Linked DNA regions of Homo sapiens. The protein of the gene in region 1 interacts with the protein of each later gene in a biochemical or structural test. Each region holds a gene or a part of one and is shown on either strand. Other genes may lie near its edges. The genes, in order: HDLBP, CTCF and XPOT.

Region 1 (7,107 bases):
GACGCTGCCACACAGTCTCTGTGCCCTTCTAGCACAGCACACAGCCATGGAGAACAAGACGTGCAGGTGACCTGGGGAGGATAAAGGAAATGTGGCCCCAGGGAGTCCAATCCGGTTCCAGTGCAACGTGGGATTTGTCGACTTCCATTCTCTAAGGCCGCACACCACAACACGCTACTCCTTAGAGGGGGCCAAGAGACGCAAGGCCAGTGCCTTTCTAGAGGGCCCAGCCATGGCACTTACCATGCGAGATGCAAGCTCCAGCAGCTCTCGCTTGGCCTGCTGCACGCCCTGTGGGTCCCCCTCGATGCGGATCAAATTGCTCTTCTCACTGTCAGGAGGGATGCGCACGGACACCTTGTACTGGTCTTTGATTCTGTTTACTTAGGAACACAAAAGGAAACACATTTAGGACACAGACCAACAACATTCTGCCAATGACATAACTGGGCAGGACAGCGCTAAAGCGCTAAATAACCTTATCTGTGATTCCCATCACCAAAAACGATGCTTAGCTTCCCAAACAAAAATCTCCATTGTCTAGAATGGGGGCCAGTTATGATCTTCACCTGGATCACAAGGGTTCTGGAGGACAGGCTCTCAGCCTGGACCAGAAGCTGGAAATGCCCCGAGACCTTCAAATAACTGACGGTTGGGGCCACTCAGTCTGGGATTTAGCTCGTCTGGGGTATTGGCCAGGGCTTCAGAATAGTTGAAGGATTCCAGGTGTTTCTAATGTGCAGTAAGTTTGGGAACTACTATTCTCAAGTTAAAAAAACCACACACATTAACTCCACACAAAAGCACTCACTGACGCCTAAGAGCCTTGTGGGGCCCATGCTGCTGCCCAGAGACCCCATCTACTGTTGGCTCAGATTCACACTGAGCACTTCACTGTGTCTGCAAGACAAGTGCTGTTGCAAACCCTCCTGCTGTCAACCTCTCTGGATAGAACCCAGTACCCCCAAGTTAAGAGTTCCAGGCCCCCCAAACTCTGGAGAAGCCGTATCATCAGGAAACAAGGCAGGAATCTTGCCCACTGTGCAGTAAAGGGAAGCCCAGCTTGCTGGAAGGACCACGAGGAGGGCTTTTTGTGCGTCCATCCCAAACACATGCACACGCAGAGGCAGCAACGAGGCGATGCACTGAGGGGGGAACATGGACATGCAGCTGTGCCAGGTGAAGCAACACAAGACAAGAGAAGCAGAGGACATGGGAGCTGGGCAGCAGGTTTTTTTAGATTACGAAAGAAGACAAGAGTTAGGAACTGCATGAGAAGAAAACAGAACAGACATGACTGACTAAGCTACATTCTGCAATTTCTCGGGGGCAGAAACCAGAAATTAATGTTAGATTTACACTACTGTACTTCCATATATATGTGTTTTGAGACAGGGTCTTGCTCTGTCACCCAGGCTAAAATGCAGTGGCACGATACAATCACAGCTCACTGCAGCCTTGACTTCCTGGGCTCAAGTGATATTCCTGCCTCAGCCTCCAGAGCAGCGGGGACCACAGGCCTGGCTAAATTTTTCTTTTTTGTAGAGACAGGGGTCTCACTATGTTGCCCAGGCTCATCTCGAACTCCTGGGCTCAAGTGATCCTCCTGCCTTGGTCTCCCAAAATGCTGGGATTACAGGCAAGAGCCACCGTGTCAGGCCTAAACAAACGCTACAGTTAACCAAAACCAAAACAAAACCGTAAAAGCAAGTTTATGGTGTATGTGTGGTTCAAGTAGTGCGCAAAAAGGTCACTTTGTGCCTACAGACTCTCGTCGCTGTCACGTAAAATGCCCACAAAACATAAGACTGACACCAGAGAGCTCACCATTGCACAGGCCACAGCACAGCTGCCAAGGCTATGTTTACTCATAACAAAAACGGATACACGGACGTCAGTCATGTTATGCAGGTCGGTGTCCCACTACCTGGGAAAGGCTCCTTCATCCACTGAACTATCCAGGAATGGAGGACGTGCTTGCCTTCTCACCTTCCACCCAAAGGTAACACACGCGACGTGTGCACTTGTTTTCAGAACACGCGAGTGTGTGAGTATAGCCATACAGTTAAACAAAGAGGTGTAAAAAAACATTCTTGGTTGGGCACAGTGGCTCATGCCTGTAATCCCAGCACTTTGGGAGGCCGAGGTGGGCAGATCAACTAAGGTCAGCAGTTTGACACCAGCCTAGACAACATGGTGAAATTCCATCTCTACTAAAAATACAAAAAAATTAGCTGGGTGTGGTGGTGCACGCCTGTAATCCCAGCTACTTGGGAGGCTGAGGCAGGAGAATCGCTTGAACCTGGGAGGTGGACGTTGCAGTGAACTGAGATCACGCCACTGCACTCCAGCCTGGTGACAGAGCGAGACTCCGTCCCAAAAAACAAACAAACAACACAAAACATCCTTGGACCTGCAGCAGAATGCCCACGACACACTTCTAACAGCATCCTGTAACTGTGCTACACCTGCAACCTGGCACAGGTGAGGCACACAGCGACCTTGGCCCACATGACATACTTCCAACAGTGTCCTGTAACTGTGCTACACCTACAACCTGGCACAGGTGAGGCATATAGCGACCTTGGCTGACATATCACTGCCTCTTCAACAGAATCCCCCTGCTGGGTGTGGTGGCTCACACTTTTAATCCCAGCACCTTGGGAGGCCAAGGTGGGCAGATCACCTGAGCCCAGGAATTTGAGACAAGCCTGGCCAACATGGTGAAACCCCGTCTCTTCTAAAAATACAAAAATTAATTGGCTGTGGTGGCATGCACCTGTAGTCCCAGCTACTCAGGAGGCTGAAGCTGGAGAATTGCTTGAGCCCGGTAGGCAGAGGTTGTAGTGAGCTGAGATCACGCCACTGCACTCCAGCCTGGGTGACAGAGTGAGACCCTGTCTCAAAAAAGTATCCCTCCCCATGTTGTTTTACTTGGGCACAAATCTAGAATGTTTTTACTCTTCAGTGAGTTCCAGATCAGCAGTTTCCACGTTCAGAAGGCATGAGTACTACCAACACTGATTGGCTAACCTAGCAGGTCTGACGGAAATATAGAGAATGCTGCCCTTGGGCATGCCTTCAACATGGCCTCTGTGGGTTATTTGGGGAGGGCTTAGATGGATTTCCAAAAGTGACAATTCACCCACTGGCCAAGCAGCTCTAATCCAACCACTGCACCAAAGGGAAAAGGAAAAGTGGCCTCTTCCAGCAGGCAGGAGGATGTAAAGTCTGTAACTCCCATTACAGGCAGCAATGGGCCTGGACTGTCTGCACGGACGTCACAGTTCTCACAGCTGACACCCCCCACAAGGGTCTCAGGGCACACTGGCCCCACCGCAACAGACAGCCTCACTCACTGTTGGCACCGCTCTTCCCAATGAGGTGCCTGTGGAACTTGTGGTCGATGTTGATCTCCACATAGTCCATCCGGTTAATCTGCAGGAGGAGCACAGAGGTCCATGGATGCGCCTGGTTACTTGGCCAATGAGCTGAACCAAAACCCAGCAGTCTCCACGGTTGCCTTTTCTGACCACTCAGCTGTCAGGAATTGTTGGAGACTGCCCCTGCATCTCCCCTGAAAGATGCCTTCTTCAAGATGAAGTTTCCTCCACCCACGATTATTCCAGGACTTCGACCAGCTTCTGGTTGTTTCAGAACCTATTACTCACCCAGCTAGGATGCCCTGGGTGTCTGTGCCCGGACATGTGGGATGTCATCGAGAGATGACCGCCCATGCCCAACTCAGAGCCTCCCTTGTCACCAGCACACACAACATTCCAAGGGGTACCTTACCAAATCTTTGACCATGCCTTCTATCTGTTCCTGGGCCACATTGACATCCTCTGTAGGGCCCTCCAGGGTGATCTTGTCTTCGCCCTCTGTGAACTCGATGTGAACCTACCACACCAAAACCAAAGAGATAGCTAAAACAGAATGGCACAGCTGCAGCCCCTGAGCTCCCAGTGGGAGCTCTCTTCGGAGCGGCTTCTGATCCCAAACTGCTTCACATAGATGTGAGGGAGGGAGGGACATATCCACAGCCATCAAACAAAGTTGAAAGGGAGGGTTAGGGAGCCATAGTCAGGAAACTAAATACTGTGGCCGAATAATCCTGCCTCTCACTAAGGACACCGTTTGCCCCACAGAAGCCACTAACATAAAGCATGCGACATGCGACATGCTCCTCCACCATCTGAACTTTTACAAGGCCTGGTCCTCTTGAGTTGCATAAAGAATGAGACAGAGCACGGATGGAATTTTAAAACTCGTATAGCTGTACCAAGGTGGTAAAGTAACTTGCTTGACATAGACAAGGCTGCCAGAGTTCCTGGTTTATTATCCTCCAGGTAAGGAGTTAAGGAAGGCAGACTGGTCCTTATATGAAGCTATACAAAGTAAAAGGGGCTGGGCACAGTGACTCACACCCATAACCTCAATATTTTGGGAGGCTGAGGTAGGAGGACTACTTGATCCCACGAGTTCGAGATCAACCTGGGCAACTAGTAAGACTCTGCCTCCACGAAAACTAGCCTGGGGCGCCTGTAGTGCCAGCTACTTGGGAAGCTGAGACGAGCGGATCACTTGACCCATGAGTTCAAGGCTGCAGTGAGCTATGACTGCGCTACTGCACCCCAGCCTGGGTGACAGAGTGAGGCTTTGTCACTAAAAAAAAGGAATAAAATAAAAAAAATTTAATTTTTAAAAAGGACTGTAACATTAATTGGAAACAAAGTTTAAATAAAACAGGAATTAAATATGATGGTTGGATTCTCTGGTATTTCTTTTTTGTTCATGTTTCCTGGGGGCTACAATCTCCTTTGGTAAACTGAGAACGCTTTAAATTCACACTTAATACAATTTGTATACAAGTTCTGCTCTTCAAAGTATTTTTTTTTTTTTTTTGAGACAGAGTCTCGCTCTGTCGCCAAGGCTGGAATGCAGTGGTGCCATCTCGGCTCACTGCAAGCTCCACCTCCCGGGTTCACGCCATTCTCCTGCCTCAGCCTCCCAAGCAGCTGGGACCACAGGTGCCCGCCACCAAGCCCGGCTAATTTTTTGTATTTTTAGTAGAGTCGGGGTTTCACCATGTTAGCCAGGATGGTCTCGATCTCCTGACCTCATGAGCCACCGCACCCGGCCCGCCAAAGTATCATGAAGTTATTTCACCATAATTACTAAATGACATGTTTCTTAAGATACTTATGAAACCTAAGAACATACAATCCTCTCTGGTTAAAGGCCAGAAGGATGGTACAGACATCTACAGACATTTATTCTGCTGTTCTTTAAGCTAACACGGAAGTTGACCATGTCAAACAGGCCAGTTAATTCAGAAAAATACACCAGTTTTCAAGGGCATCCACAGTACAAAGGTCAACAAAGCAATATCAGAAACAGAAAGACAGAAAACAAGACAAATTCAATACAACAGGTGAAAAACGTGTCCTTACCTTTGGCATCTGCTGAGTGATTTTGGCCAGGTTCTGCCCTTTCTTGCCAATGATGAAACGGTGAAGCCAGGAAGGGGCGGCGACAGAGGAGACGGTGAAGCTATTGGCCTAAGAAAATGGGAGAACAGCCATGGGTTTGCAGAGCTCAAGGTCGTGTCACAGTGAAAGCCAGGCTGCTCACCTGGGGCTCAGAGGCACGCTCTCCCCAAACCTGGGCACCTGCACTGTGTCCAGGCCCCAGGATTTACAAATCGAGAGCTCATCCATGAAGGCCCCGCGGACTCCACTCAAAGGAGACACACTTCATGCTCGGAGGCAGTTACCTTGGCATAGACTTCAGTCAACGCCTGACCTAACTTTTCAGGTTCGCCTCGAAGTATTACAGTCTCAGAGATGCTGTCTGAGGGTGGGATCTCAACGGAAACTCCAGTTCTCTCAAGGATCTCCTGCAATGAATTGCCCTTGGGCCCAATGACATACTTGTGTTGGGATTTCTTCACTTCCACTGCAATGGTTGTAGTCTTCTTTTTCTAAATAAGAGCACCATAAGGGGCAGTCAAAGGGAAAGGTGTGGGAAGCGGGCAGGTGGGCATGGCCACTGCTGCAGAAAGCAAGCCAAAGCGGCCCAGACTATAGATGCTGATCCCAAGAAGTGAACAACAAGTGATCAGGACTAGCCAATCCCCAGAAACTTCACTGTTCAAGGACTGGATTTTTCCCCTCAGTCTAGTCACCCGCCGGCTGATAACTTCGTCCTTGAACACTGCAAAACACCCAATCCTTTCCCTCAATTAAGGAACACGTTTCAGACCTCAAAGTTCACTAAGCTGAGCTAACAGCTTAATCTAAGACGTGAACAAGTCCGGGATGTGCATCTGACCCGGGGCAGCCCAGCTGGCAGCCTGTCAGCACAGTCAGAGGCCCAGGACGGCAAGGACAACTGCCAGGCAGATGCTCAACAGCAAGGGGGGGCGGGCACCGATCTCACCCGGGTCACTCAAGTGTAGAGACAATAAGCATCTTCATCAAGGACAAAAAGATAAGGGGCAGAACCAGGCCTTAACTGAATCTCCAGACCCAAATCCTCATTTCTATTCCTGCCCATGGGGATTTGCCTCCTCTAAATCGTGTACCTTCTCCTCATAAATCTTCTTGATGCGAGCCACAGCCTGAGCCAACTGTTCCTTCTCTCCAGTGAAGACAATCTCTGTCCGGTTCACGCTGGGTGGGGGGATGTTGATGCGCGTGCCTGTCTCCTGCATGATCTCGCCAACCAGTCTATTATACGGCCCAGCGATGAAGGGGTGGAATGCCTTTTCTACTTCTAGCCTCTCCACAGCACGTTTGTCCTGGAAAGGAAGGGATGATCTGATGAGAACAGGCCTTTGAAAACAAACTGGGGACAGACAGGGCTTTTTAGAGTTGGAGTCAAGCCCTCCACCCCCACCACATTATGCCTTGAAGTCCACACTGGACACGGCAACCCATGAGGGAGTGAGGTCTGCACAAGCAGGTAGGCAGGGGCACGAGGCACTCACACAGGCCTCACCTGCTCGGCAGAGATGAGTAAGACTTCATGGCGAGCTTTCTCGATGCCCTCTTTGGTGCCAGTGATCTTGATCTGATTGCTGGGGTCATCTGGGCGTGGGATCTG
Region 2 (7,358 bases), on another chromosome or scaffold:
AGCACAATCTCGGCTCACTGCAACCTCCACCTTCTAGGTTCGAGCGGTTCTCCTGTCTCAGCCTCCCTAGTAGCCAGGACTACGGCGTGTGCCACCATGCCTGGCTAATTTTTTGTATTTTTAGTAGAGACAGGGTTTCACTGTGTTAGTCAGGATGGTCTCAATCTCCTGACCTCGTGATTCTCCCGCCTTGGTCACCCAAAGTGCTGGGATTACAGGCGTGAGCCACCGCTCCCAGCCACAACTACTCTTAAATAGGCAGTATTTTCTTATGCAGGCAAACATTCCTGTTTTAATCATCCTCCTATCACTAATTTAAATAACAGGTCCTGGCCTGGCGAGATGGCTCACGCCTGTAATCCCAGCACTCTGGGAGGCTGAGGCGGGTGGATCACCTGAGGTCAGGAGTTCGAGACCAGCCTGGCCAACATCGTGAAAACCCGTCTCTACTAAAAATACAAAAATTAGCCGGGCGTGGTGGCACGGGCCTGTAATTCCTGCTACTTGGGAGGCAGAGACAGGAGAATTGCTTGAATCCGGGAGGCAGAGGTTGCAGTGAGCCGAGATCGCACCACTGCCACTCCAGCCTAGGGGACAGAACGAGACTCCGTCTCAAAAAAAAAAAAAGGTCTGGGTTACCCTAACATATCAATTCATCCTCAATTTATTCTCTCCGTAGATTGTTTTTTAATAAAAACAAAACAAAGCATGATTCCTGGCATATGGGAATTTCAAAGGATAGCAACTGTGTGGAAAAGGTCTATTCCACTAAAACAGCATAAATGACGTATAAACCCAAGAAGCTGATGACTGCATATGAAACAACCAAACCAAGAAGCAAAATATGGTCTATGGAGCACAGTACTAACCCGGGAAAACAAGCTTTACTCCTGGCTCGATTATACACCTGCTGTATTTTAATTTTTAACTCAATGTTGAGCTTATTTAAATAAATAAAACATGCTACTTAACCACAATTTCAAAAGGAAAACAAAGTCACAAAAGAATGCAATAAATTACACAATTGGACTAACATATTAGATAATTAAAGGTGATTCTATTCCCAAGTCTAACTATCAATCAACGCTACTGCATTTAGTTACTCTATGCAATTTTATTGAGGAAGAGGGGTGGCAGGAATATTTTGCAGGGTTCCAAAAGGAGACATAGAAAGCGTGCCTACGAAGAGGACTGCAGTGAGGAGCTACACATTGAGATTACATACAGTGGACTGGACAACTTTGGTTAGGACCAGGCTGTTTAATTTCTTCATAAACTTAACATAGCTTCCTTCCTAAAAACAGGTTAATCCAGACTTTCTTCTCTCCAAAACAACCCGAACTGATACATTAACTGCTGCAATGAACTATATTAAGGCACTAGAATATTTACGGAAAAGCAAAAGACTCCCGCAATTCAACGGGATGCTTTTTAGTGAAGAAAGAAAACTTAAGGACCGAATAAATTTAAATATATGCCTTGTTTAACTTCCTTTCCCACCTATGAGGACTTGGTTTTTAACTTTCCTAGTTGATCGAAACTCAAAGTATGAAGACTACGTATGCGAATGTTTACTTAACGCTGAACTCGGGGCTACAGGAAGTCTCCTACTAAACAGTAGTTACATTAGGCGTAGATATTTATAAACCATCTGCAGCAAGTGACCCAGGATTCAATTACAACATCAACCCTCATATTTCATCGCATGGGCAAATTACCAGTCGAGTCAAGAATAAACTCATTCTGCCCTACTGGCGCTCTAGATCGAGTTGCACAATCCTGGGGCAGAACCGCCTTCACCTAGCCCTAGAGCATCAGGTACTAAGTTAGTGTGAGGACATTTTAAAGCGGGAGGGAAACTCAAGGGACTTAGCCCATACTCCCAAATTCAGAAATTTGTCACGTCACTTGAGATCAGAATGAAATTTAAGTTTCAGTCCCTTTGAGATCTCTGAGCGCACAAAGTCAGGCTGCTATCACTCGGCTGGGGAGTCCGAACCCGGCTGGATAAAAACTACTTGGTGCGGAACTCGCATCTTTTCCGCCCACCGTGGGGGGGCCGCACCGGTCGGGTCCGGCCAGGAACCCGGGCGCGAGTTTGGGGGCGCAGCGGGGGCGGCGAGCGCGCGTCCCCCCGCCCGCTCAGGCAGCGTAGAGGTGCGAGCAGCTCAGCCAGCCTTGCAGAGGGAGCTCTCGGCAGCTCTGGGGTCCCTCTGCTCGCAGCCGCTGCAGCGCCGCCTGCGCCACTCGGCGGAGACGGAGACCAGCGGCGGCGACGCGCGGACTGGGAGCGACCGCCGAGCAGCCAAGCAGCTGGGAAGGCACGCAGGCCGGCAGGGTAGGTTCCGGGGACGGGGCTGGCTGGAGGAGGGGCAGCCCGAGACGCGACGGCCAGGGCCCGACACCCATACGGCACCGGGACCTGGCTTAGCGCGCGGCGGCAGTCGGTCCGAACCCTTAAGCTAGGCGGGCGCCGAAGCCGGGACGCGGAGATAGTGTCTCAGCTGGGGCCACCCGCCGCGGGAGGGGCGGAGGACACAGGACAGAGGGCGGGCCGCGGCCGGGCGATCGGCCGGCCAAGAACCGGCCTCGAGGGCAGACAAAGGAAGGAAAATGGAGTCGCCGGGCGCGCGGGCCTCTGCCTCTGCCGCCGCCCGAGGCCTAGCGCGCTGCCAGGAGGGAGGCCTAGCGGGCGGGCGGGCGGGCGGGCGTGGGGGTGGGGGGGGCGGCCGGGCCACGGCGGCGACGGGCAATGGCGGCGGCCGCGCCGCAGCAGGGACGGTAGAGGGAGACAAACACCCCCCGGCGGCGGCGCTGGCGCCGGGCTGCAGCCAGCGCCGACCGGAGCGGCCCCATCGTGACACCTAGAGGCGGCCCGCGAAACCTCCTCCACCCCGGGCCCCCTTACCTCCGCGCCACACCCCCCGCGGCGCCCGCTCCGCCGCCGCTCCACGGCTCCGGCCACCCGGCGTCTCCGGCGAGCTCCGCGCGTCCGCACCGGCCACCGCCGCCGCCGCTGCCGCCAAAGAAGCAGCTCCGCGCACGGTTTAATCGCTCCACAGGCTCAGACACAAAATGGCGGCGGCGCGGTGCAGTGCGCCTGCGTCGGCGCTGCCGGGGCCGCGGGTGCTGATAAGGGAAGGGACGGGTGGGGGGACCGGCCGGGCGGCGAGTAGAGGGCGGGGGAGGAAAGGTGAGGGGAGGGGTTGGCGCAGGGCAGCATGGGAGGCGGCCCCGGGCGCCAACTTTCAAAAGCGGGCGCGATGGCGTCACGGGACGCGCCGCGAGTCGCGTCGTCACGCCGCACGCGCCCTCGCCGGGTCGCTCGTGGGCTCTGCCGGCGCCGCGGCGTCCTGGCTCCCGCTGGGTGGGGCTTCCTGGGCGGAGGCCGCCGCCCCTGGGCGGTGCCGGATCCAGTCCGCTTGACCTTATTCCCTAGCTGCTGTCTCCGGCCCCCTGAACCCGTACAGGGTTGGGGAAGTGGGGGTGGCTGGAGGAAGCGCGCGCGGGGCAAGCCAGTGGGGCTGAGGAGGCTCCCGGGCCCGGCCCCGCCCAGTCTCCGCCCCAGCCAGGCCCGACCCGCCCTCCGAATGTCTTACAGCTGCCCGCCCCAGAGTAAGGCCCGGTCGGTTCCCGCGCGCTCCCAGCTCCGTGCCCGCGAGCGACGACTGGAAGGGCTGTCCTTGCTCAGCGGCTTTTGGTGATCTCTCCGCCCTAGAAGAGGGCCACCTAAAAGCGGGTGCGAGAGGAGAGTGGGAGGGCCTCCTCTTGGTGTCCCCAGGCCACCTCAGCCCGGAGAGGTGGCGGAAAACCAGACTTGATGCTTTAACACGTTCATAGCAATCGCTTTTTACTGAAAGGAGTTTCTGTATTTAGCGCTGTGTAATTCTGTGGAAACGTGCATTTCTTGTCTTTGCGGGAGAGCTGTTCTCTGTGGGCGGAGACCTTCAGTCCCACCCCTCCCCAGGAGGCGCCTGCGGACCCTTCCCAACCTGCAGTCAAGTTGACCAAGAACTGACTGCAAGGTGCTGGTGGCTCTGGGATGAGAGCCTTTTGGTACTTACAGGGAATATGACTCTTCCCTTAGATATCAAATGGACCCAATATCTAGGGAGCAGCTTCTTCTCCATCCATCTGACCGTTCCGTTGTGAGAATGCTGGCCCAATAACATACTCTTTTTTTTTCCCCTAAAGGAATAAAAAAATCTGTATTTTTAAGATGTCAAATCTCCAGAGTTTTTAGATGTTAGCAACTGAATCAGATGTTTTTAAACTTCATGAGCTGATTAAACCACACAGATGAGCTGTCAGTTTACGACCCCTGGCTTGGCTTGGAGGAAAGAGTGAAGAGAAATTCCATGGCCAAATCCTGGGGCACTCCAATATTGGGAGGGTAATGGAGAAGGAGTCTGAAAGGCAGCATCTAGGAAGTCATGAAAGCTAGCGCTGAGTTGTGGAATCCCTGGGCAGAGAAGGTTTCAGGTAGGAGGCATCAGCTGAGCGGTGTGATAAACTTGGGCCAGAGATGTGGCTATTGGATTGGGTCACCTTGCAAGTCACTGGAGAATGTCACTGATGGCCTTGGCTTGATTCACGTGAGTATATCAGGGAGGTGGACCTGACCGGAATGGGTTAAACAGTCACCAGGAAAGTGAGGAAATGGAGACAGCACATGTATGCAATTTGAGAGAGGTTTTGCTGTGAAGGGACCAGATAAGTTTGGGGATAGATATAGAAAGAAATCTTTTAAAAGATAGTAGGGGCCGGGCGCAGTGGCTCACGCCTGTTATCCTAGCACTTTGGGAGGCCAAGGCAGGTGGATCACCTGAGGTCAGGAGTTCGAGACCAGCCTGGCCAATATGGTGAAACCCGGTCTCTACTAAAAATACAAAAATTAGTTGGGCATGGTATCGCGCGCCTGTAATCCAAGCTACTGGGGAGGCTGAGGCAGGAGAATTGCTTGAACCCGGGAGGCAGAGGTTGCAGAGAGCCAAGATTGGGCCACAGCACTCCAGCCTGGGCAACAAAGCGGGACTCCATCTCAAAAAATAATAATAAATAAAATAAAAGATGGTAGGGTTCCCAGAGCATGTTTATGTGCCATTGGGAGGGATATGGTGGGGAAGAAAGATGGGTGATCCAGGAGAGAGGAGGCTTGCTTGACCTATATAGGAGTGAAATCCATCAGAAGATATAAGGAAACAGGGAGGGTTGACCTTGGAGAGGAACAGGGATGCTTCCATTCATGATAAGGGCAACAAAGGTGAAGACAGATGCAAGTGCAGGGGAGAGGGAAGGCAAGTCCTTAACAGGATTGCCTTGGTGGCATTGGGTACTCATCTGAGGTTTGTGATCATGATGTTAAAGGTAAACCAGTTGGCCCAGTGTGTTGGTTTTTCTCCAACATTCAGCTGCTTGGGTACAGACATGAAGAAAAGGGATAGTACAGCTTCTCAACACCAGGACCCAATTTTTCTCATTTCTTTTTTTTTTTTTTGAGACGGAGTTTTGCTCTTATCGCCCAGGCTGGAGTGCAATGGTGTGATCTCAGCTCACCACAACCTCTGCCTCCTGGGTTCAAGCGATTCTCCTGCCTCAACCTCCTGAGTAGCTGGGATTACAGGCATGCGCTACCACCCCCGACTAATTTTGTATTTTTAGTAGAGATGGGGTTTCTCCATGTTGGTCAGGCTGGTCTTGAACTCCCAACCTCAGGTGATCCGCCCGCCTCGGCCTCCCAAAGTGCTGGGATTACAGGAGCGACTCACCGCGCCCGGCAAGTTTTCTCATGTCTAATCCCAGTTACTTACCTTATACAATTAGATACTATTTTAGAAATGTGTGAAGTATTTGAAAAATTTACACGTGACCCTTCTTTTTCTAGAAACCAAGTTATCCCATTTGCCTCTTATGTACACATTAGGACTCAGACATAAAGAAAAGACAAACTCAGAGGAAAATTACCAAACAGATGCTTCTGGAATATTTGCATTTTGCATTCTCCTCAGCCCAAATAGTTCCTGGTATACTTAAGAACTTATGTACTAGAAACAACAAAGCTGACATGCACATAGGGAGACCTTGTTTATACAAAAAATTTAAAAATTAGCTGAGTGTGGTGGCGTATGACTGTAGTCCCAGCTACTTGGGAGGCTGAGGTGGGAAGATCGCTTGAGCCCAGGAGGTCGAGACTACAGGGAGCCATGTGTGTGCCACTGTACTCCAGCCTGGGTGATGAAGCAAGACCCTGTCTCAAAAAAATAAAAAATAGGCCAGGCACAGTGGCTCATGCCTGTAATCCCAGCACTTTGGGAGGCCAAGGTAGGTGGATTACTTGAGCCCAGGAGTTTGAGACTAGCCTGGGTAACATGGCAAAAGCCCATCTCTACAAAAAATTAGCTGAACATGGTGGTGTGTACCTGTAGTCCCAGATACTTGGGAGGCTGAGGCAGGAGCATCACTTGAGCCCAGGAGGTTGAAGCTGCAGTGAACCCCGATTGCACCACTACATTCCAGCCTGAGTGACAGAGCAAGACATTGTCTCAAAAATAAAAAAAAAATTAAAAGCTGACTTGCATTTAAACTTTAGATTTTCTTTCTAGTAACATTAATAAGCTAATTAGTTCACTTTCTCAAGATTTTACTTCAAATCACCTTCCTTTTTTTTTGTTTTTTGTTTTCTTTTTGTGGAGATGAGGTCTCACTGTGTTGCCCAGGCTGGTCTCAGGCTCCAGCAATTCTCCTGTCTTGGCCTTCCAAAGTGCTGGGATGTAAGCCACCACACCTGTCCCCATCTTCTTTAAGAGTAGACTACAGGAACACCTTCTAAAGCTTTTATGTAGGCAAATATGAAGCAGTGGATTTATTTTTTTATTTTATTTTATTTTTAGATGTAATCTCACTCTGTCGCCCAGGCTGGAATGCAGTGGCTCGATCTCAGCTCGCTGCAACTTCTGCTTCCTGGGTTCAAGCAATTCTCCTGCCTCAGCCTCCCGAGTAGCTGGGACTACAGGTGTGCACTACCACTCCTGGCTAATTTTTTGTATTTTTAGTGGAGACGGGGTTTTGCCATGTTGGCCAGGCTGGTCTTGAACTCCTGATCTCAGGAGATCCGCCCACCTCAGCCTCCCAAAGTCTTGGGATTACAGATGTAAGCCACCACACCCAGCCTGAGGCAGTGGATTTAGAGGGAAAAAAGCCTCAATTATATTTATGATTATATTTACAACTATATATTAATTATATTTATAACTCTATGATCTCTGAGGCATCAAAAGCCAGGAATGGGGTCCAAGTGGCCTTGAAGCCTGCTTTCTGAAGACAAGGACCCTATGTACTGCTCTCACATAGGGCTGAGA
Region 3 (7,107 bases), on another chromosome or scaffold:
AAGTAAAAAAAGAAAAAAAACAGAAAAATACAAACTGTTGTTTTAACGTAGTAAATTACAATTATGAAATCTAGCTTTTACCAGGTTGTGGGAAAGTGAGAAAGCGGAAATTGACATTAAGTATTGTGAAAATTAGATTTGGGGAAACTATCATACAAGGAGGATCAAGTTGCCATTTCATGCTCTTAATGATTAGGGAAAACCACTAGGTACAAGTTTTAGAATTAAAGTAGTAGTAGGAAACTAATACTCAAGCTTGAAAGAATGTTTGTGACATATGCCCTTTCATGGTCCTAGAAAAAGTCAGGTGTTAAAGTCGAAGGAGTAGAATTTGTAAAATTCAGCAGTAGCATTGGGATTCAATAAGAATTCATAAAAACTCCAGAAGGTATCATAAATCTTTAAAAAAAGAACCCTGATCTGAAATCACTAAGTTAAAAAAAAAATCAATGAAACATAATATAATCAACCTGGCATTAAAGAAGAAATTGGGAATATATGAGCTACACAAGGTAAACAAAGATTCCTAGGTGCTTACCAATACTGTTTGTGCATCTGCCAGGTCAAAGGTTTGTTTTAAAGGTGCTAGGAAACATGCGGGGACAATGTGCTTATAAACAAAATCAGCAAATCCCACTGGTCCATCTTTACCTCCTGTCAAGAGAATTCAAATTTTCATCTTATATATAAAAGTAAGTCAATTAATTCATCACCAGGGAAAACCAACTCCCAGTTTCTCTCTCTGTTAGGGCTATGTTCCATTATGTCTAAGAGTTTTATGAAAGAGTTTGGGAAATGAAGGTTAAGAAATAAAATTATCTTACCCCAGAGTTCTACCAACTTTGAGAGGATGATAAAACATGTTTTCTGTGCAATTGGATCTGGATATTCAACTGCTCCTTGGATAACAGTAACCAACACTCTTTCTACATTCTCTGCACCTGAGGAGAAAAACCTTTAGTTTAAGCAATTTCCAAAATTAACTAGGAAAGCAACCTGAAGTTCTCTTTTCATATACATTAACAAGTCAAAAATCATTTACAGGTGGAATGGGAAAAATGAAGGGGGAAAAAAGCATTTACAGAATTGCCAAAATCCCTTGATTTTTATTAACTGGGCACCTAAAGTTTAAACATTAAACACTGAAAAATCAGCTGGGCGCGGTGGCTCCTGTCTGTAATTCCAGCCCTTTGTAAGGCCGAGGAAGATTGCTTGAGCCCAGGAGTTTAACCAGCCTGGGCAACGTGGTGAGATCCCATCTCTACAAAAAATAAGCCCAGCATTGTGGCAACTGCCAATGGTCCTGGCTACTCAGGAGGTAGAGATGGGAGGATAGCCCAGGAGGTGGAGGTTGCAATGAGTCGTGATGACACCACTGCACTACAGCCTGGGCAAGAGAGTGAGACCCTATCTCACAAATCAAATCAAATTAAAAAATAAAACAATGAAAAATCAGTTTGCCCCTGGTATCTTGTTCCCTAAATTTCCTATACAGAATTCTCTACACAAATCTGTACAGCTCCATTTATTTTATATTTCAAAATGGCAAATTTGCCATAAAGACTCAATTGTCAGGTCAATTCTGGTAAGTAACCATGTTATTTATATTGCTAAAGAACCAAATTAAAAAAATATTGCAGAAAGAAAAAGGAACAGAATACAAATTAATTTTAGGTGCTTTACATAAAAGTGATCAATTCCCACCCTGAAAACAATAAACTGTCTTCCCATGGGATAGCAAACTTCAAAATTTCTGTATTTACTTCAGTTTGCTCTTGGTCATATAGATGTACAACAGTGACACAGACTTAAGCAGACAAATTAGATATGGCATGTGTTCCCACCTTGATTTGCTATAACTTCGCTCATCCCACTGCCTGTGACTGTTTGCAGGAAAGCAAAGTAACTCCTCCGCAACATCTGCTTCTCTAAAGCAGCAGACTGGTCATTTTCTTCTGCTGGCCGGAGCAGCACTTCAAAAATTGCATGAAGCAGGGGCATGAACATCTGTTGTAAAAACGGGGATACCTGTATCTGAAGATAAACAATCATTACTTCAGAAATTAGTAACAATATTAACATACAACTTAGAAAAAACTATTTTACATAAAGCCTTTCTTTTCTATTTAGGATGCATGCGTACATAATTCAGTTAGCAAATATCAATTTTAAGATAAAATCTATATAACCTAAACATTACTAGGCCAGACGCAGTGGCTCACACCTGTAATCCCAGCACTTTGGGAGGCTAAGGCGGGTGAGTCACCTGAGGTCAGGAGTTCAAGGCCAGTCTGCCCAACATGGTGAAACCCCATCTCTACTAAAAATACAAAAATTAGCTGGGTGTAGTGGCGCACGCCTGTAGTCCCAGTCCAAGCTACTCAGGAGGCTGACGCAGGGGAACTGCTTGAACCTGAGAGGTGGAGGTTGCAGTGAGTCAAGATCATACCACTGCACTCCAGCCTGGGCAACACAGCAAGACTCCATTTCAAGGTGGGGAAAAAACCTTAAAAAATATTACTAAAAGACTCAAGATCATTAAATTTAAACCCTTTCCTACAGCTTAAGATTTAGGTTAAAATAATAGTCAGACATATTTCACAATATTGCCATGGAATATTTTCAAAATTAAATTCTCAAAAAATGAATTATATGATTAAACTCTTAGGGTTTTTCTTGTTTTTGAACAAAGGTAAAAAACATTGTTTAATAGCATGTTCTCAATACTTGCTTACAAATGAACTCCTGAGTTTTATGAACTCTTGGGCAAATCCCTTCACTTCTCCATGCCTCAGTTTCCTCAACTATAACATATAATCCCTGTCTTCTAGGGTAGGTATGAAGATCAAATGAGTAAATGTACAAAAAATGCTTAGAACAGATTTTGAACATAGAAAGTACTATGTAAGTGGCCAGGTTTATGCCTGTAATCCTAGCACTTATGGAGGCCGAGGCAGGAGGATCACTTGAGGTCAGGAGTTCGAGATTAGCCTGGTCAACATGGGGAAACGCTGTCTCTACTAAAAGTACAAAATATTAGCGTGGTGTGGTGCATGCACCTATAGTTCCAGCTACTCAGGAGGCTGAGGCACAAGAATCGCTTGAACCTGGGAGGTGGAGGTTGCAGTGAGTTGTGACCGCGCCACTGCACTCCAGCCTATGTGACAGAGTGAGACTATCTCCATTTAAAAAAAAAAGAAAAAAGGAAAAAAGAGGTACTATGTAAGTATTAACCACTTTTATTAGCCAGCTTAAATGTCCTACAGAAAACTGACTTTAATACATTGAATTACTTTTAACTCTTGCTTGGGTACCTGAATTATGGTGCTTATTTAGTACTCAGTTTACTGGTTTTATATGCTCTTCTAAAACAGCAGACTAGTTTTCTTTTGCTACACAAAGCGGTTAGGGTCTGTTTATATTCAAACATCTATTAAGCATGACCTATGTATCAGGCAGTGTGCCAGACACCACAGATGATAAAAATACATATGATCCATGAGGCTCTTAAGTAATTCATTAAAAGCAAAAAAAAAGAAACCCAAGGGCAAAATCCGAAACATGTCTGAAGATAAATACATCTGATCTTCAAGAGATTTTCAGAGCTCTGAAAGTTTGCGGTACCTTGAATTTGGCCGTAATCTGGTTGATAAGAGGAATGAACTCCTGGAGATCTTTTGCTTCACAATCTTTGAGCATATGTTCTGAAGCAGATGGAATGAACGGAAGAACTTCTTCCTCCAGGCAAATAATCATTCGATGAAGGAAAGTACGGACTCCACTTCTGAGAATATCCTTTTGTAAGGGACAACTGAGGGCTGGCAAGAATGTCTGTAAACAGTCCAGATAAACTTCGGAACAGCCACATTGTTTCACAGTCTGTTTGTTGCTGAAAGCTTTACTGGTTCGACTATATAAGCAAAAATCAGGCAATCAGATGCAACTTTATTCTTTAAAAGTGTTATGGAGTATTCAAAAGCAATGCACAACAAATTACAAAATTAACAAAACTAAATAACCAGACCTTTATTTTCCACATCACAATTACTTCCATCTTTAGCTAATATGGCTATTTGTAAACTACTGCTTCCAATGATCTTTCCAGAACAAAAGAGCTCAAATTAACTTAAATGAATGACATGTAGTTAATATAATCCTTCTAATGTGAGTCTACCTAAATGTTTTATTAAAATCCTATTGACTGGGCTGGGTATTGTGGCTCATGCTTCTAATTCCAGCACTTTGGGAGGCTAAGGCAGGCAAATCACTTGAGGCCAGGAGTTCAAGACCAGTCTGGACAACATGGTCAAAACCGGTCTTTACTAAAAATAGAAAAATTAGCTGGGTGTGGTAGCACATGCCTGCAATCCCAGCTACTTGGAGGCTGAGGCACAAGAATTGCTTGAGCCTGGGAGGCGGAGGTTGCACTGAGCTGAGATCACAACACTGCACTCCAGCCTGAGTGACAAAGCAAGACTGTGTCTCCCCCACAAAAAAAAGAAAAAAGAAAAAAAAGAGAAAAATCCTACTGACAAAGTGGACAGAAAAGAGAAAATAAATCCACTTATTATGACTAGGCCTGTACTAGGTAACCTGCAAACCACCCATTTAAATTTAGAAAACCATCTTCAGAATTCTTTATACAACCTCTCTAATATCTAGCTCTTGTTCTTAAATATATTATAGAACAATTTAACTTCTAAATTAGCAATCTTTACAACTTTCATGCTGTTGTTTGTCAACAAAAAGTATGGCTAGAGGCGGAAAAAACAGCTGCTTGGGTGATCTTCAGGACACAATACAACTGAAGAGAAACCTCACGCTCTTCTCTTTAAGGTAACCAAGACTAACCAAAGATGTCCCGTCCCAATATATATTTGGTATATTAACACTTCAGCTGATCCTCTTAAACACACAACCCATTTATATCAGAGAAGTCAGAGGAGTTAAAGATTTACAGTTGTCAAGGCAAAAATGTAAATGGTATGTAACCTATCCCCTTCTTCAACCAAATCTAACTGACTGGATTTGGAGGACAAAGATTTAGACAATTCTCTGGATTATCCAACTGTGGAAACACAAATGTGTGTGCCCACCAAACAAGTGGTTCTGTCTGTGTAGATACATGCACTTTATAATTTTAACTGTGATCACACTTACCTTGCAAATCCAACAGCATGGTTAAGACAGTCTGCTAGAGAGGCTTGCCTTTCTTCATCTTGTGCCAGCATCAACTTTTCTAACAGAATTTTAAACTTCTCCATTAGTGGAGTCAACAGATTCCTCATTAAGGCTTGTTTCCTTTCTGCCGGATATTCACTATTAACAATCAGCACTCCAGCTGTCTCATAAATAAAAAGTTGATCATCGCTGCTCAGTAAGGACTGGTGGCCATTCTCCTAGAATGAAATTCAGTCTTATTAAAGCTTTTATTTTTTGAGTTCCCTTCATTTAATGAGAAAAAGTGCATTAGGAACAGGAAATGTAATCTATCACACCAACTCATATGTCAAATACTTATAAAGACAAATTTTCTCCCAGGACCATAGAATGAAAAGAAAACTAAATTAGAGGTCAACAGATCACGGTTCTAATTCCAGCCCTGACAAGACTCTATAAATGATCATGTAAGATAATTATTAAAGTTAGCTTTCTAACTTGTTTTCTTTTGTAAAGATCTTATTTATATAAGATTGTTATGAGGCTAGGCTGCATGTGGTGGTTCATGCCTGTAATCCTAGCACTTTGGGAGGCCGAGGCCGGCAGATCACTTGAGGTCAGGAGTTCGTGACCAGCCTGGTCAACGTGGTGAAACCCTGTCTCTACTAAAAATACAAAAATTAGCTGGGTGTGGTGGCGCACCTGTAGTCCCAGCTACGCGGGAGGCTGAGGCAGGAGAACTGCTTGAACCTGAGAGGTAGAGTTGTAGTGAGTCAAGACCATGCCACTGCACTCCAGCCTGGGTGACAGAGCCAAGACTCTGTCTCAAAAAAAAAAAAAAAAGTACTAGAGTGCTATACTTCTTTTAAATAATTAAGTAACAACACACAGTAAAGCATTATTTTGCATGTGTCTGTAAGGGTGTTTCCAGGAAAGATTAGTCAGTCCAAGTAGACTATGTGGGGAAGACCTGCCCTCAGTGTTGGCGGGCACCATCCAATTGACCAGGGGCTCTGAGAGAACAAATACATAAGGCAAATTGGTCTCTCTCTGAAAGGTGGACAGACTTTTCTTCTGCGGCCTTGAACATCAGAAATTTGACTCTGCAAAAGTACATTACACACAGCATTAACTGTGTGTGTAAACACTGCATGTACACAAGAAAGGTCCTTTCTGTACATCTGCATCTGTGAAACATAAAATTTCTTGTGATCTCAGTTCTTTGGGTGACTGCATATGTTGTAGTGACCCATTGCCGTTTTTTATCAATTTCCTCAAGACTTAGGTTGTCTGTCATGGTTATTTCAGATGAGCGCAGTTATAAAGCAGAGTGGCACACAACTACTAACCATAGTGACATGCACTTACACATTTTGCTTTCTGATTTATGAATACAGTTTGTCTGCTCCTGTTTTACACATGTAACTGTCATTTTTATAACTGTTTATGCTTGCAAAAGCATGTTATTATTGCCTATTTTATTGTGTAAAGTGGCCTATGAAGTGCTGTCATGTTTTTACATGTTTCTCAAATACATTCCCTTTTAAAAATGTAAAGTAATATCTTTCAAATAATTTTTTAAAATTACTTTTTCCAGGATTATATTTTTAAGATTTTGATCTTTTAGAATTGTGGTTTTTAGGATTTCAGGATTTTAACACTTGGGATTATGGCCCAATCCCAACACCAAAATATTCAGATCGACTAGCACTTAATTTTTTTTTTTACCCTAAGCCTGAAATGACAGGGAAAACCTTCGATCTAACAGTAGCAGCTGCTAAGAATGGCTAATACAATTATAGGATTAAACAGAATAATTTAGAAGTTGAATTTTTTAAATTTTTATTTTCTTTTGGTTTTTAAAATTTTTAATATACTTTTCATTTTAACAGCAAGCTCATCTTTAATGAATTTTTTCTTCTTCATAAAATGCTTCAACATTTTAAC

What was found.
Region 2: the proteins of HDLBP (region 1) and CTCF form a complex in vitro, tested with the Homo sapiens proteins (one study listed by BioGRID).
Region 3: the proteins of HDLBP (region 1) and XPOT form a complex in vitro, tested with the Homo sapiens proteins (one study listed by BioGRID).

The regions. Positions count from the first base shown.
Region 1 is NC_000002.12:241,249,598-241,256,704, forward strand, and holds part of HDLBP (vigilin), read right to left. Parts: coding exon 7,003-7,107; intron 6,803-7,002; coding exon 6,587-6,802; intron 5,984-6,586; coding exon 5,777-5,983; intron 5,562-5,776; coding exon 5,454-5,561; intron 3,901-5,453; coding exon 3,796-3,900; intron 3,439-3,795; coding exon 3,360-3,438; intron 384-3,359; coding exon 244-383; intron 1-243. UniProt on the Homo sapiens protein: Appears to play a role in cell sterol metabolism. It may function to protect cells from over-accumulation of cholesterol.
Region 2 is NC_000016.10:67,558,275-67,565,632, reverse strand, and holds the start of CTCF (transcriptional repressor CTCF), read right to left. Parts: upstream 3,108-7,358; 5' UTR 2,909-3,107; intron 2,339-2,908; exon of another isoform or gene 2,183-2,338; intron 1-2,182.
Region 3 is NC_000012.12:64,428,341-64,435,447, reverse strand, and holds part of XPOT (exportin-T), read right to left. Parts: intron 5,400-7,107; coding exon 5,161-5,399; intron 3,911-5,160; coding exon 3,625-3,910; intron 2,035-3,624; coding exon 1,845-2,034; intron 942-1,844; coding exon 825-941; intron 655-824; coding exon 539-654; intron 1-538. UniProt on the Homo sapiens protein: Mediates the nuclear export of aminoacylated tRNAs. In the nucleus binds to tRNA and to the GTPase Ran in its active GTP-bound form. Docking of this trimeric complex to the nuclear pore complex (NPC) is mediated through binding to nucleoporins.